Regions from separate parts of the Homo sapiens genome. Here all the other regions are linked to region 2. Evidence: fine-mapped expression QTL. A gene starts in region 2. Each other region holds a variant in brackets. All regions are shown on one strand. Distances are between the middles of the regions.

Region 1 (5,214 bases), 26 kb before region 2:
AGCCCAGATTGTGCCACTGCACTCCAGCCTGGGCGACAGAGCGAGACTCCATCTCAAAAAAAAAAAAAAAAAAAAAAAAAATATATATATATATATATATATATATATATATTCTAAAATATTGTTCTTTGGTGCCCAGGCTTCTGAGAATAGCCATCGTCCCTCAGGTCTCCCACTGAGAACTTTGACTTTTTTCTTGTTGGTTGCATAGCCGCTGACCACGGTGTGTGTGGTGTCTGAACAGGAGGCATTTGGATTGCTATTTCTCTTTTCTCCCACTTTCCTCTCAAACTTGACCTCTGCTCTCTGTTTAGGAGCTGAAGGCAAAACAAAGGGGCAGTGATTTAAACTGGCTTTCTTTTGTTTTCTGTTATTTGTAAGGGCGGGAAGGGTTTTGGAGAGGTGTCCGCTGGTGTGAGTGGCTGGATGAACAGGTGCTGCTTCTGATCCTGACTTTCAGCAGAGGTTTCTGGAGTCTTTCTGGGCCTAGGGAAGCAGCAGAAGTGGCAGCTGTCCTGGCTGGTGCTTCTGACCCCTGCAGAGCCCCTTTTGAGACGGGGGGAAGACGGGCCCTACATTGATGAGATTCCGGTGAGAAATGTCCTAGCTAAATAGTAACTGCCTGAACAAATGAAATACAGGATAGTTGGGGTAGGCTGGGGCCAGAAGAACCTTTGCCTTGGATGGCACTCTTCCTAGCATCCTGCCTGGCATTGGCAGGTGAAGAACTGACTGGTGGCGTGTGAGCCACCATACAGCCATGTTGTCATCCCTAACAAGCCCTGTGGCTGGGACGTGTGTGTGGTTCTGGGCTGCAGAAAGATTCCAAGTTGAGCTTTTGCTTGAGGCTTGAGAGAGCAGCCCTAGACAGGAGTAGAGAATCTGGCACAGCCTGGATCACAAGGTCAGGAAATCGAGACCATCCTGACTAACATGGTGAAACCCCATCTCTACTAAAAAATACAAAAAATTAGCTGGATGTGGTGGCACGCGTATGTAGTCCTAGCTACTCAGGAGGCTGAGGCAGAATTGCTTGAACCTGGGAGCTGGAGGTTGCAGTGAGCCGAGATCACGCCACTGCACTCCAACCTGGGTGACAGAGCAAGATTCCGTCTCAAAAAAAAAGAATCTGCCACAACCTTGCTGACTGAGGTGTGCTGTTAGACACTGGGCCCTCTTAGGGAGAACAGTCTCAGGAATGTCAGCGTTAGGGCCTGGCCCCCCTGGTGCCTTTTGGAATCGGTAGGCTGGCGGAGAGCCTTGCCTGGTGCAGCTGCAGGCAGTGCCCTGTCTGTGGGCCTTCCGTGCTACCTGTCTCCTCTGTTGGCCAGCAGGGCCAATGACTGAGAGTTGTTGAGCTGCCCATGAAGCCTGGGGCCCTTCTGTGGACAGCACTGGCCGACCACACTGGCCAAGCTGTGCTAGCAGATCCATGGAGATGTCCTCCCACCCCAATAGTCTTCCTCCCTGTGGGTGCAGAAAGAGGGAGTGGATGCTGGAGGTTTCCATCCAGCCCTGACTGCTCCTCTCTGAGCCTCTCCAGAGAACCCATCTGTCATTGAGAGCTGGGAAGAAGCTCAGGGATCAGGGAAGGATTTCATGGTGTTCTGCTGGGGTAGAGTCCTGGAAAGCTAAGGGTCTGTCCCTCAGGGGTGTCTTCCACCCGAGTGAGCTTGGCATCTGTCCTAAGTGATACAAGACTTCCCACACAAGGGAAAGGGCTGCAGGAGCCAGCTGTGCTCTGTCCTGGCTGACTTCAGCAAAGTTCCAGGCTCAGTCTGCATAGTGTTTATTAAAGATCACTTGGTAATGTGTATCCAGGCTTTAAGCCTCTTGATGCCTCTGCACACTGGCCCCTTTTGCAGGTATTGGTGGAGTTGGTGTCTGCACTTGGGGCTCTGGTGGACCCCATCAGGGCCTGATTGTGGTGTGGAAGTCTAGGCACTAAGCCTCAGAAATCTTATTGAAAAAAGAATGAAATGAAACCAATCTCAGTTAAGGAAGGTGGGGGTGCTTTCCCTGTGGAAGGGGACCCAGCTCACCTTCAGTGCCCCTCTGGGATAATTTACTTCCCTTTCCGCTGGAAAAAGGGTCATCTTCCTGTGGCTGTGGAAAGGCAGCACCTTCCTCCCTACTGCTGCCTCCCCCAAGTCTAGGTTTAAGAGCTGGACCTCCTGAAGGTGGGAGGTGGAGCCCACCCTGTTGCAACACCCCCCATTGGGATTCGGCTAGATCTCACCCTGGGCTCTTAAGCTTCTGGCTTCCAGGGCCAGGGCCAAGCTTCCCCTGTTAGACTCTTAGGTAAGACACAGGCCCTGTGTGAAGCAGTTCCATAGGCCTGGTCACACAGAGGACACCCTTCTCTTTGATTCCATCCCCCAACCCCTAAACCCCCCTTTCCTCTGCAGATATACTCTAGACTGGTTGGGGAGTGGAGAATATCATACTGTTATAACCTCTTTCTCCCCATCGAAAAGACATAAATATCAGTTTCTCTTTATTATTGTGAAGCTTTAAACCACTTGAAAATCCTTTAGCCCACAGTTAAGCCCAAACAGTAAATATATCCTTAATATATATGTGGGAATCTTATTTTTTATGAGGAATCCCATTGTCTTGCACCTTATTTGTGTTTAACATTTGGGTATCTTTGTTCTCCGTTGGTCTTTTCCAATTCAGGTATCATCTTTTTGATTGTCTTTTTTTTTTTTGAGACAGAGTCTCGCTCTCTCGCCAGGCCGGAGTGCAGTGGCACTATCTCAGCTCAGTGCAACCTCTGCCTCCCGGGTTCAAGCGATTCTCCTGCCTCAGCCTCCCGAGTAGCTGGGACTACAGGTATGCGCCACCACGCCCAGCTAATTTTTGTATTTTTAGTAGAGACGGGGTTTCACCATGTTGGCCGGGATGGTGTCGATCTCTTGACCTCATGATCCACCCGCCTCAGCCTCCCAAAGCGCTGGGATTATAGGCGTGAGCCACCGTGCCCGGCCCTTGATTGTCTTTAATATTATTTTCTTCATACTAAAGAGGCAGAAAATATTTTATATACAGAGGAGCTAGATTGCATTCATATC[G/A]TTTCCAAGCTTTAACTTTTCATGATTATATGCAAAATTCTATACCAGCAGCATTTTTTAACCTTTTTATTGACATGTGACTTATGTATAATAGTTTACAAATTGTAAATACAGCTCGATGGGTTTTTATATTATTATACACTCATGTATTTACCTCTCAAATCAAGTTATAACTCCTCCATCCAGCAGTGTGCTTTTTTTTTTTTTTCTTTTTTTTGAGACAGTGTCTCGCTCTGTTGTCCAGGCTGGAGTGCAATGGTGCGATCTTCGCTCACCACAACCTCTGTCTCCTGGGTTCAAGTGATTCTCCTGCCTCAGCCTCCCAAGTAGCTGGGATTACAGGTGCCAGCCACCACACCCAGCTAATTTTTGTATTTTTAGTACAGTCGGGGTTTCACCAGGTTGGACAGGCTGGTCTCCAACTCCTGACCTCAGGTGATCCACCCACCTCAGCCTCCCAAAGTGCTGGGATTACAGGCATGAGCCACCTCACCCGGCGGCAATGTGCTTTTTTCAGTTTGATAGAAACTCATTTTTTCCTAGCTAAAAGCTACATTTTTTAAAAACATGCATAGAAGGTCGCAGTCCCTGTTATTTTTAGTAACAGGGGTTATGGTAATGAGATTGTTAATATTCTGGGGTTTTTCTTTCTATCTCTAATAGGAGAGCCTTGCTTGAGTTATGAGTCTTGGGCAGGCTTGGGCTCTGCCACCAGCTAGCTGGCTGTGTGACCCTAGGCAGGTCACTTCTCCTCACCTTCATTTTTTTTCTTTAATTGTCAACAGTAGGATGGGGTCTTTAAGGCCCTTTTGGGCTCTGACTACCAATTCTAGCCTCTGGGGTAATAAACCTGCCACTTGTTGAAAGCTCACCTTCAGCCTGATACTGTGGTGCATTGTTTCACTTGATCTGAACTACCCCATGCAATTAGTATTAAAGAATACCAATTTTTAGATAAGGAACTGAAGCTGATAATGATCACTTGTGTGACTTGGCCAAGGTCACACGGCTAATAAACGGTGGAGTGGAGCTTGAACCAAACCCGGCTCAGCCTCCCAAGTCCTAACCTGCTAGCCACGCTGGGGAAGGTTGTGGGTACCTCGTGTGGATCGTGGCTGGCGTTGCTTCAGATTCTTCTTTCCTCTGGGTCTGCAACCAGCTAGAAGCCTGGATAGTCCTGCTGTGAGTCTGTCCTCTGTTTCTGTGTGCTGGCAGTGGTTTTCCCTTTTGAGGAAGAGCTGTGTTCTTGAGCCTATGGGTAAATCATCTCCCCAACTAATCGGAGCCTGGGAAGCATTTGCAAAACCTTGACTCCAGTTGGCTTTTAAATCAAATGTCTTCCACTTTAGCCTTTGAACCGAGTTACTTCCTCCTGTGTCTCTTGCTCCATTTTCTTTAACAACTCCTTTCTGCTGTTGTTTTTTTGGTTTGATTTTGTTTTGTTTTGCTGGACTCTTGTTTAAATATTCAGGAATGCCCTTTTCCGGGGTAAAATGTAGCTGAAGAGTCACTGGTCAGAAGCACCTGCAGGGGACCCTGGGCGGGGTCACTTGGTTCTCAGGCCACCTGGCTAACCTTGAGTGAGCTAGTCTCTACGCCCCGCCTGCCCTGGTCAACAGTCTGATTGGTTTCCCTAATCAGCTTGCTCTCCAGGCTGTGCCAGGACTCTCAGCTAGAGGAAGTCTCTAAAGCAAACAGGAAGTACACGAGACACTCATCAGCTGGAATTGCTCACCCTTTTACCAGGAAGGACAAAACATATGAAGTGGGTGACTTCGTGGATTAGAGGAAAGGTGAAACTTTCAAAGGGAGGTTAGGGGGAGGAATTGCAGCAGCATCTAGTGTCTTGGAGAAGGCTCCAGTTGCTGAGTGAAGCTGAAGACCCCTCCCACATTCATGGACTTACACATGCACACTTACGAGTTGTGCACAGCACTGATCGGGGGTGCCTTTCTGTCTCTTGGATTTCTCCCTCCTTCGTATATCAACTGTAGCTCTTGTGCTTCGATCAACTGCTTAAAATCACTGGGAACTTATTTTTAAAATACTGATTTCTGGACTCCACCTCTAGAGATTCTAATTCAGTTGGTCAGGGTATTTTCTAAAGGCCCTGGGTGATTCTGGTGAAGAAGAGTTTGAC
Region 2 (5,214 bases):
GGGTGGGTGCAGCCAGTGGCTCCGACTGTGGCCCTGGGAGGGGTTGTTGTTGGGGCTGGAGTTGGCCCCTCAGTCCCTTCCTTCCCTCAGATCATCAAGAAGCTGATTGAGCGCAAACAGGCCCAGATCCGCAAGGTCTACCCGGGGCTCAGCTGCTTCAAGGAGGGCGTGAGGCAGATCCCTGTGGAGAGCGTTCCTGGCATTCGTAAGCAGGGGTCTCAGTTGCAGGGTAGTGGGGGCACGATGCTTGGGGTGTGGACTGGCATTCTTAGAGACATTCTCCCACTTCCCACTTTGCAGGAGAGACAGGCTGGAAGCCATTGGGGAAGGAGAAGGGGTGAGTGTCAAAGGAGCCGGGTTGGGGGTGGGGCAGAGGGACTTGGAGCCTCAGACTTGGTGTCTCTCGCCCCAGGAAGGAGCTGAAGGACCCCGACCAGCTCTACACAACCCTCAAAAACCTGCTGGCCCAAATCAAGGTGGGGAGACCAGGTTTCCTTTCCAGGGCCCCTGCACCAATGGCTGTGGCCTCTTGATGCAGTGTGGGGTGGGTAGTGGTCTCGGGCTGGCGTGGGCGCAGCAGGGCTGTCCCCAGCCCGGCTCTTCTCTCCAGTCTCACCCCAGTGCCTGGCCCTTCATGGAGCCTGTGAAGAAGTCGGAGGCCCCTGACTACTACGAGGTCATCCGCTTCCCCATTGGTGAGGACCTTCCATTCCATCCCCTTCCCTCCTCTTCTGTCCCCACACCTGCTCCTGCCCTCACTGCGCCCTGCAGCCCCAGGGGGCCCACCCTGGTGGACAGCCCTGCCGTGGTCTTCAGCCTCTTAAAGCTGTGCTCCGTCTCCTGCTGCCCCAGACCTGAAGACCATGACTGAGCGGCTGCGAAGCCGCTACTACGTGACCCGGAAGCTCTTTGTGGCCGACCTGCAGCGGGTCATCGCCAACTGTCGCGAGTACAACCCCCCGGACAGCGAGTACTGCCGCTGTGCCAGCGCCCTGGAGAAGTTCTTCTACTTCAAGCTCAAGGAGGGAGGCCTCATTGACAAGTAGGCCCATCTTTGGGCCGCAGCCCTGACCTGGAATGTCTCCACCTCGGATTCTGATCTGATCCTTAGGGGGTGCCCTGGCCCCACGGACCCGACTCAGCTTGAGACACTCCAGCCAAGGGTCCTCCGGACCCGATCCTGCAGCTCTTTCTGGACCTTCAGGCACCCCCAAGCGTGCAGCTCTGTCCCAGCCTTCACTGTGTGTGAGAGGTCTCCTGGGTTGGGGCCCAGCCCCTCTAGAGTAGCTGGTGGCCAGGGATGAACCTTGCCCAGCCGTGGTGGCCCCCAGGCCTGGTCCCCAAGAGCTTTGGAGGCTTGGATTCCTGGGCCTGGCCCAGGTGGCTGTTTCCCTGAGGACCAGAACTGCTCATTTTAGCTTGAGTGATGGCTTCAGGGGTTGGAAGTTCAGCCCAAACTGAAGGGGGCCATGCCTTGTCCAGCACTGTTCTGTCAGTCTCCCCCAGGGGTGGGGGGTATGGGGACCATTCATTCCCTGGCATTAATCCCTTAGAGGGAATAATAAAGCTTTTTATTTCTCTGTGTGATTGTTTCTTTGGTGTAGTCCCAGCCTTAGCAGGCTCACCTTGGCCCCCAGGGACCTCTTGCAAACTGGAGGCTGCTCTCCCCAGCAAGCCTCAGGCCTGGTCCTGTGCTCCTGGGGTGATGGGTCCTACCTGCCTGCAGCCCCCCACCTCTCCCTCCTCCAGGCTGCTCCTGATCCAGATGCCAGGGCAGCAGGGGTCAGAACCTCCTGCCTTCACCTTAACCTGGGTGGATGTGGTTACAACTGACTGCAGAAGGGCCAGAGCGTAGAGGATCCTGTAGCACTGAAAGAGTGCTTCCCTGTTAGCACACGTGGTTCTTTTTCTTGGGGCAGGGATAGGAGATTCGTAAGTCGGCTCAGCTGGCTCCTCCCCTCAGTTTCAGTTTCCATTTCTGATTTCTGCTCTCTGCGCTGAGCACAGCGGCACCAGGCTGAGCTAAGCAGGGCCGCCTTGGGCAGGCCTACGTGGTGGTGCAGGCGAGACCCAGGCTGGGCAAGGCGCAGGTGTAGCCTGTGTTACTCCCACCCCCCCCCACCCCCACCTTTTGGCCACAGCAGGCTTCTGATGAGTTTTGAGGGTGTCCCCCCCCCCACCTCCCTCAAGTGGGGTGGAGTCCTGGGCAAAGGGAGGTCTCTGTACCGACTGCTCTGGCCAGGAGTTGGGATGAGTGGAGGGCCCAGTGGGTCTGAGTCCCCTGCCATTCCCAGAATGGAGCTGTGGCCCTACCAATGGGAGGTGATCATGCCTGCCAGGGCGCTGGCGCAGCAGCAGTACTTAACCGGAGTTTGTACTCACGGCAGTTGGCGATGACTGTTAGCACAAACGGTTCTTTTCTCTTGGTTCTTTTTCCTGGGGCGGGGATGGGAGATTCCTAAGTCGGCTCAGCTGGCTCCTTCCCTCAGTTTCAGTTTCCATCTTGGGTCTCTGAGCTGAGCAGAGTGGCACCAGGCTGAGTTAAGTGGGACTGCCCTGGGCAGACCTACCTACTAGAGCAGGTGAGTCCTGGGCTGGGCAGGGGGCAGGTGTAGCCTGTGTTACTCCCGCCTCCCCCTTTTGGGCAGAGCAGGGTCCTGATGGGTTCTGAGGGAGTCCTGCCCCACCTCCCTCAAGTGGGGTGGAGTCCTGGGCAAAGGGAGGTCTCTGTACTGACTGGTCTGGCCAGGAGTTGGGAGGGGTGGAGGAGTCGGTGGGTCTGAGTCCCCTGCCATTCCCAGAATGGAGCTTCGGTCCTACCAATGGGAGGTGATCATGCCTGCCCTGGAGGGCAAGAATATCATCATCTGGCTGCCCACGGGTGCCGGGAAGACCCGGGCGGCTGCTTATGTGGCCAAGCGGCACCTAGAGACTGTGGATGGAGCCAAGGTGGTTGTATTGGTCAACAGGGTGAGTGGTCTGTCCCTACCCCGCTCTCCCACCACCAAGCAGGGTCTTAGCTCTTCAGGCATCTCCCAGTCCCCACCAGAACTCCAAAGCTGCTGTGGCCATCGCTAAGCTCACCTGTCTTTCCACCCTGGCTCAGTACCCAGCCATGTCCTGCGGGTCACCTTACCGCCTCCCTACCCCTGGCCCCAGATTCAGCTCTCTTTTCCCAGCTCATTCTCCACCCCCAGGTGCACCTGGTGACCCAGCATGGTGAAGAGTTCAGGCGCATGCTGGATGGACGCTGGACCGTGACAACCCTGAGTGGGGACATGGGACCACGTGCTGGCTTTGGCCACCTGGCCCGGTGCCATGACCTGCTCATCTGCACAGCAGAGCTTCTGCAGATGGCACTGACCAGCCCCGAGGAGGAGGAGCACGTGGAGCTCACTGGTGAGGGCCATGGCCGGGAGGAAAAAGATACGCATCTGGGGTACCTCCTTTCGCCAACCCCAGGGCACCTCCTGGAGTCAAGGTGTTGGGAGTTTTAGTGGGAGTGAGGGGTTGCCTGTTCACAAAACCCCTGCAGGCACTCTAGTAGAAACAGGCCGGGCTATCGTGTAGGATCTTAGGCCAGTCCCTTCCCCAGCTGAGCCTCGGTTTACTAATCTGTGAAATGGAAAGAAGTCTTCCCTGCCTGGCTCCTCATCCTGGGACCAGCTGCAGGTTGTGAAGGGAAGAAGGAATTCTTACATCATTGTGGGGACTACTTGAAAGCTGATGGGAGGAAGGGCTTTGCAAACATAGGTCACAGCCTTCCCCCCTGTGCCCTCAGTCTTCTCCCTGATCGTGGTGGATGAGTGCCACCACACGCACAAGGACACCGTCTACAACGTCATCATGAGCCAGTACCTAGAACTTAAACTCCAGAGGGCACAGCCGCTACCCCAGGTGCTGGGTCTCACAGCCTCCCCAGGCACTGGCGGGGCCTCCAAACTCGATGGGGCCATCAACCACGTCCTGCAGGTCAGCCTGGCCCCTGTGGGCCTCCCACTGCCAGACCCACCAGGGACTTCCCTCCCTCCCTGCCTGCCCTGCCACTACCCCGTCCCCACCAGCCCTACCAGGCTCTCCATGGCAGGGTCTGGCCCCTTCCTCACCTAAGACCCAGCCTCCAATGGTTTCTTATGGTACAAAGAATTAACTCCCGACTCTACTGTGGTTTACAAAGTTCCACGTGATCTACCTCTCCACCTCATTTCCTGCGCCCTCCCTGTTGTAGCTCATCCTACAGTTACACTGGCCTGCCTTCTGCATGTTGAACATGTAGGGCTTGTTCCATCTCGGGGACCTTTGCATTTACCATTTCTTTTGCCTAGAATGCGCTTCCCTTTGAACTTTTCCTGCTGCCTCCTCCTTGTCATTCATTGAACAGCTTAATGCCACCTCTTGAAAGTCCTCCCTGATCTCTGCTCTCTGTCATATCATCCAGTGCTATCCTCTTCAGAGCTTGTTAATGCGCTCTGCAAGGTTTTATTGTTTTCTTTTTTTTTTTTTTTTTTGAGATGGAGTCTCACTCTGTCGCCCAGGCTGGAGGGCAGTGGCATGATTTCGGCTCCCTGCAACCTCCGCCTCCCAGGTTCAAGCGATTCTCCTGCCTCAGCCTCCCGAGTAGCTGGGATTACAGGCACCCACCACTATGCCCAGCTAATTTTTTGTATTTTTAGTAGAGACGGGGTTTCACCGTGTTGGCCATGCTGGTCTCGAACTCCTGACCTCGTGATTCACCTGCCTTGGCCTCCCATAGTGCTGGGATTACAGGCGTGAGCCACTGTGCCCAGCCTCTTTTTTTTTTTTTGAGACGGAGTCTCTGTTACCCAGGCTGGAGTGCAGTGGCACGATCTTGGCTCACTGCAACCTCCACCTCCCGGGTTCAAGTGATTCTTCTGTCTCAGCCTCCCGAGTAGCTGAGACTACAGGCGCGTGCCACCATGCCTGGCTAATTTTTGTATTTTTAGTAGAGGTGGGGTTTCACCACGTTGGCCAGGCTGTCTCAAACTCCTGACCTCAGGTGACCCGCCCGCCTTGGCCTCCCAAAGTGCTGGGATTACAGGTGTGAGCCACCATGCCTGGCCGGTTCTATTATTCTTTTACTGGTTTATTATCTGCCTCTCCAACTCCAATCTGAGTTCCTTTGTATCCCCAGTGCCTAGAACAAGACGGGCACAGAGAGGGCGAGCAATATTTGAGTAGACGAATGCCCACATT
Region 3 (5,197 bases), 490 kb after region 2:
AGGCTGAGGACCCTTCTGTGTGGGAGACTGGGGGGACCACAGACGCGGGGGCAGGCGGGGGGAAGAGCTCCTGCCTGATGTTCCCTGTGCCTCCCTCCTCCATCGCCTGCAGCCACAGTGACCAGCCACCAGGTGTGCCATCGTGGAGGAAGTCCAGGTTGGAGAGGTGGTCTTCTTCTGTGAGCAGGTCCACTTCTCCACCCACTGAGACCCCTTTCTGTCTGCGACAGCCCCACCTCGAGGGCCACGGCACAGCCATCAGCTCCAGCTCCCAGCATGCTACTGCCACGCCCCGAGTGTCCGTCTGGGCCCCGGTGCATGGCCTGTTGTCTTTCTGTATCTACTTTCTGCAGCCCCTCACTGAGGAGGCCTCCTGGGTTTGTCCAGTGCCTACTATTAAAGCTTTGCTCCAAGTTCAATGCCTCGTGTGATCTGATCTGCTCATTGGTTTGGGGCAGTGTGGGCTGAGGGACTGGGGGAGGTGGAGTTTATTGAGTGTTTGGGTATGGGCTTGTCACCTGCCAATCTGTTCTGCCCACTCCATCCAGGCCTGGGGCTCCTGGAAAGATGAGAGGGGAGGAGGCGGAAAGATTAAGGGTGGAGGGATGGGACAGCCCCTTGTATTGGGAAAAGTTTCTAAGAATCAGCCCCTGAGTCCCTGTCACCTGTGGCTGGTCCCTGGGAGGGCCACACAGACTTTCCAAGGATGGTGCCTGTTGGGGAGCACTCCCTGCCTCAGCCCAGGGCGGGTTCAAGAGCAGAAGGAGAGGGGCTTGGTGGGGAGGGGCTTCTGAAGGAGTGGTCCATGGCATTGATGAGTGAGAGGGCATGGCAGTGACGCAGCCAGCCCAGGAAACCAGACCGGCTCTGCCCCAGCTCGGGGTGTGTGTGGGGCGGGGTGGCCGCTGTGCGTGTACGCGTAGGGGGCATCCTGTTTGCTTTGGTGGCTTGGCAGCCACTGGGCTATTGAGGAATGTCTCTCGGCTGCTGGCGGGGCCGTCTGGGCCTGTCTGGGAAGTGGAAGCCATCGGCAGTCTGAAACATGACCACATTCCACCCAGCGGGCCTGGCGGGACCCTGGGACCCAGGGCCGGGCTTGGGGTGGTGGGCAGGGCAGGGTGGGGCTGTGGGGTGGGGCACATGGCCCACCTGAGGAGCCACATCTTGGGGAGCCTGGAGTGGGAAGGGGGCTGGCTGGGGTCTCTGTAAGAGCCTCTTCTTGGGCAATGTCCTTTAGGTTTCCTGTGGGCTGAGACCTGAGATAAATACCCGTCACCTGACCCTGAGGTCTCTTGGGGTACAGAAGGGTGAGGGGAGTGGAAGGGGGCATCCCCCTCTCAGTTGGCACAGCCCACCATTTCCCCATCCTATAGCTGAGCCCCTGTTTGCCCACCCCAGCCTGGAGTGTAAACCTGGGGAAAGGTTTACACGAAGAGACTGGGTTAGCAAGGATTTCTAGGGATGGGGCAGGGTCAGAAGCTGACTGGATGGAACTGTAGCCCCTAGAGTGCATTCCTGGGTGTCAGGCTCTGCAGAAGGGGCCAGTGTGGACACGGCACCCCTCTGGAGCCCCAATTTCTTTATCTGTGATGTGGGTTGGTCTCCGAGGCTTGATGGCATTTCTATGCTGTGAGGTGGGCCTGGTGGGTTTGGGCTCAGTTTCCAAGGCAGGATAGGCTCTCGGTCTCCTCTTTCTCTTCAGCACCCAGCCCCGGGGCCAGCACCGTGGGTGGAGCAGTGTGGGGTGAAAGACAGCAACTTTGGCGGGGGGGTCAGCTGACACTGCAACCCATTTCCCCACCAGACAGGGTTGAGGCGGGCCAGGCTGGGGTGGTGGCTGCCTGGGAGGGCCTGGGGACGGTGACGTCCTGCCTTCTCCTCTTCTCCGTATTAGGTCATGGGAAAGCATAGCTGGAGGGCCCGCCTGAATCACAGGTGACGGGCCTGAGACCAGAGGCACGCACACGCACGGCACTCAGCACGAGGATTTGGAGAAATGAGGCAAATTCCTGATGATGGGCGGGGAGGGGGCCCCCAGCCACCTGGGAGCTGGCAGGTGGCCAGTGGTGATGAAAGCCCAGGGGAATGGAAACAGAGGAGCAAGCCTGTTGTAATCGCTACGCCCACTTGGTGGCCTATAAAGGAAGCGGGCGAACCCCGGCAGCCCTACACAACTTGGGGCCCCTCTCCTCTCCAGCCCTTCTCCTGTGTGCCTGCCTCCTGCCGCCGCCACCATGACCACC[T/A]CCATCCGCCAGTTCACCTCCTCCAGCTCCATCAAGGGCTCCTCCGGCCTGGGGGGCGGCTCGTCCCGCACCTCCTGCCGGCTGTCTGGCGGCCTGGGTGCCGGCTCCTGCAGGCTGGGATCTGCTGGCGGCCTGGGCAGCACCCTCGGGGGTAGCAGCTACTCCAGCTGCTACAGCTTTGGCTCTGGTGGTGGCTATGGCAGCAGCTTTGGGGGTGTTGATGGGCTGCTGGCTGGAGGTGAGAAGGCCACCATGCAGAACCTCAATGACCGCCTGGCCTCCTACCTGGACAAGGTGCGTGCCCTGGAGGAGGCCAACACTGAGCTGGAGGTGAAGATCCGTGACTGGTACCAGAGGCAGGCCCCGGGGCCCGCCCGTGACTACAGCCAGTACTACAGGACAATTGAGGAGCTGCAGAACAAGGTAGGGCCTGCTGGTGGGAGGGGTCTCCGGGGGGCATGACTTCTTCCCCCCAACTCCTGCCTTGGCCAAAGGCCTGGAGTCCAGCCATAGGGTCTCAGGGAGCCAAGGGTGGTTTGGCTGTGGCTTAGCTTCTGGGAACCTGCCTTGGGGCCCCTGTGTGGCTCACATCCCCCTTTTCTGGGGACAGCAAGCTGAGTCAGGAACAAAGAGGCCTTGTGGAGCCCCTTGGAGCCTCAGTTTCTCCCTCGTGGAGCTCCGCCACCTGGAGAGGTTGTAGGATGAGGCAGGAGGATGCAGATGGAGGGCTGGGCCCGTGGGCTGCTGGATGTGTGGTGTCTTGCTCCTTTGGAGCAGGGGTCAACAGGAGGGGGTTTTGGGTGATGTGGAGTGGGGGTGTCTGAGTGAGCTCCTGATAGCACCTGCTGCAGGAGGAGGCAGAAAGGAGGGGGCGGGACCTCAGTGTGGGGAAGGCCTCTGATGTGCCTTATTTGGGGATTTTTCTGGCTTCTCCTTTCCTCCTGCTGTCCCTTAAGACGGGCTCAGCAAACCCCAGGGGGCGGGGCTGCTGGCTGGCGCCCAGGGTTAGGGATTAGGAGGGGTCCTGACTTTTGATTTGGAACCACTCTTTAATGAGGGCTCCTTTAGCCTCCTTTTGGGGGAGCCTGTCAGGGGCACCCTCTAGCTGACTGTAAAACGAGGGGGTTGCCCACATCCCCTCCCTTGTTCTAGAATTCTGGGACAGCTTCTGCCCTGGGGACATTTTCCCATTCTTTTCTGGTTGCCTCATACTCCCAGCCAGCTGTCTCTTCTCCTTTAAGGCCGAGCCTGCCATGGGGGTCTGGTGGGGTACTGAGTATCGGGGGAAGAAGAGGCACCTTTCAGCCCTTCAGACTCCTGTTTGCCCCTCCTCTGCCAATAATACAGCACGGGGCAAGGGAGGGGCTGGGCGAGAAGAGAGGCCCTGAGGCAGGAAGATCTGCTCAGAACCCTGGTGTGGGCTCAGCCACCCCCATCCAATGACCTGACTACTCTCCCTTCTCCTCAGATCCTCACAGCCACCGTGGACAATGCCAACATCCTGCTACAGATTGACAATGCCCGTCTGGCTGCTGATGACTTCCGCACCAAGTGAGTCCTAGCTGTGGCCTTGGGCAGCCTGGGCCAGCTGGCGGAGGATCTCAGGGTACCCCTCCTGACCCCAGGATTCCTTGGTTGCTTGTGGCAAGGCCCAGGAGCTCAGGGTGGGGCAGTCCTAGGAGCCCCACTCCTTAGTCCAGGATGCAGTGAAGGCAGCCAGTTCTGAAGGTTGCTGAGCTTAGGCAGGGAATAGAAGAGAAGGAGGGGAGGCGGGAGGCGGGAGGCAGAGAGAAGTAAGGAAGCTGGTGGGCGTGGGATCTGGCCCTGTGATGGTCCCGGGGTCCCGGGGCTGGAATTCGTTTCCACTCGACCCTCTCATCAGCCCTTCCAACTCCTTAGAGTCCTGGCAAAATGAAGGCAGGTGAGCAGCCAGGACCTGGATCTGCAGGTCCAAGCAGCCTGGGCTGAAGTCTCTGATTCCCACGGCAGGTTTGAGACAGAGCAGGCCCTGCGCCTGAGTGTGGAGGCCGACATCAATGGCCTGCGCAGGGTGCTGGATGAGCTGACCCTGGCCAGAGCCGACCTGGAGATGCAGATTGAGAACCTCAAGGAGGAGCTGGCCTACCTGAAGAAGAACCACGAGGAGGTGAGGTGGCTGGGGCAGAAGGTCAAAGATGCTGAGGAGTGGGTGGCAGAGCCCTGGGGCTGGGCAATGGCTGAGGCCGTGGGAGAGAGCAGAGCAGGTGCACCGGGATTAGTCACCTTAGAGGGCTTCCCTGTCTGCAGAGCCCTGATCCTTGGGGTCCAGTGTGCAGGGCAGACTCCTCTTTGTACCACACTGCTTCTCTGTACACAAGGAACCTCCCAGGGGCCTGCAGAGGCTCCCTCTACCTACCCTGCCTCCCTCATGAGGGTGGGGGATAAGTAAGGAAATCTTGTCCCATTTCAAACTCTCAAAGCTGAACATCTACATAGAAGCTTGGAAATTAGAGGGGAACTTTTGGGGGCATAGGCCTAATAATTAGATTTTATTTTGGAGAGTCCTTGGTCTAATGGGGGAGATAGAGTCTGATGGTGGAGGCAATACTGAGCAGATGAATAAAAATCATTTAGAGGGTCAGATAGAGCAGAGGGAGAACAAAGGAGGGGTCCTTGTGGGAAGTGGGGTCCCCTTGTGGGGGAAGGCTTGGGAGTGAGAGGTCAGGATGGGTCCAGATGCGCACATCCACATCCCCTTTTTCCATAGGAGATGAACGCCCTGCGAGGCCAGGTGGGTGGTGAGATCAATGTGGAGATGGACGCTGCCCCAGGCGTGGACCTGAGCCGCATCCTCAACGAGATGCGTGACCAGTATGAGAAGATGGCAGAGAAGAACCGCAAGGATGCCGAGGATTGGTTCTTCAGCAAGGTGGGGGGTGCTGCAGGCCAGAGGGCTCTCTTAGGGGCTGGGGCTC

The links. PIP is the estimated chance that this variant, and not a neighbour inherited with it, causes the effect.
Region 1: its variant is the best candidate, but not a certain one, in a credible set for the expression of DHX58 in breast (GTEx, PIP 0.66).
Region 3: its variant is the best candidate, but not a certain one, in a credible set for the expression of DHX58 in fibroblasts (GTEx, PIP 0.66).

Annotation. Positions count from the first base shown.
Region 1 is chr17:42,135,383-42,140,596 of GRCh38, reverse strand. The region is part of intron 1 of RAB5C (RAB5C, member RAS oncogene family); the gene reads left to right. Among named protein-coding and RNA genes, the nearest start is that of HSPB9, 15 kb to the right of the region's middle. The variant G/A (reference allele first, on the strand shown) is at 3,075.
Region 2 is chr17:42,109,481-42,114,694 of GRCh38, reverse strand. It overlaps DHX58 (DExH-box helicase 58), which reads left to right and starts at 1,981. Exons shown (of 14, transcript NM_024119.3): 1 at 1,981-2,090; 2 at 2,490-2,582; 3 at 2,802-2,970; 4 at 3,198-3,399; 5 at 3,782-3,972. The coding sequence starts at 2,803. KAT2A (lysine acetyltransferase 2A) reads left to right here. Exons shown (of 18, transcript NM_021078.3): 14 at 91-205; 15 at 301-337; 16 at 413-476; 17 at 611-695; 18 at 853-1,584. The coding sequence ends at 1,046. RefSeq lists enhancers at 1,614-2,133, 2,374-2,473.
Region 3 is chr17:41,621,547-41,626,743 of GRCh38, reverse strand. KRT17 (keratin 17) reads left to right here and starts at 2,169. Exons shown (of 8, transcript NM_000422.3): 1 at 2,169-2,666; 2 at 3,712-3,794; 3 at 4,233-4,389; 4 at 4,990-5,151. The coding sequence starts at 2,235. It also overlaps the pseudogene KRT42P. The variant T/A (reference allele first, on the strand shown) is at 2,244.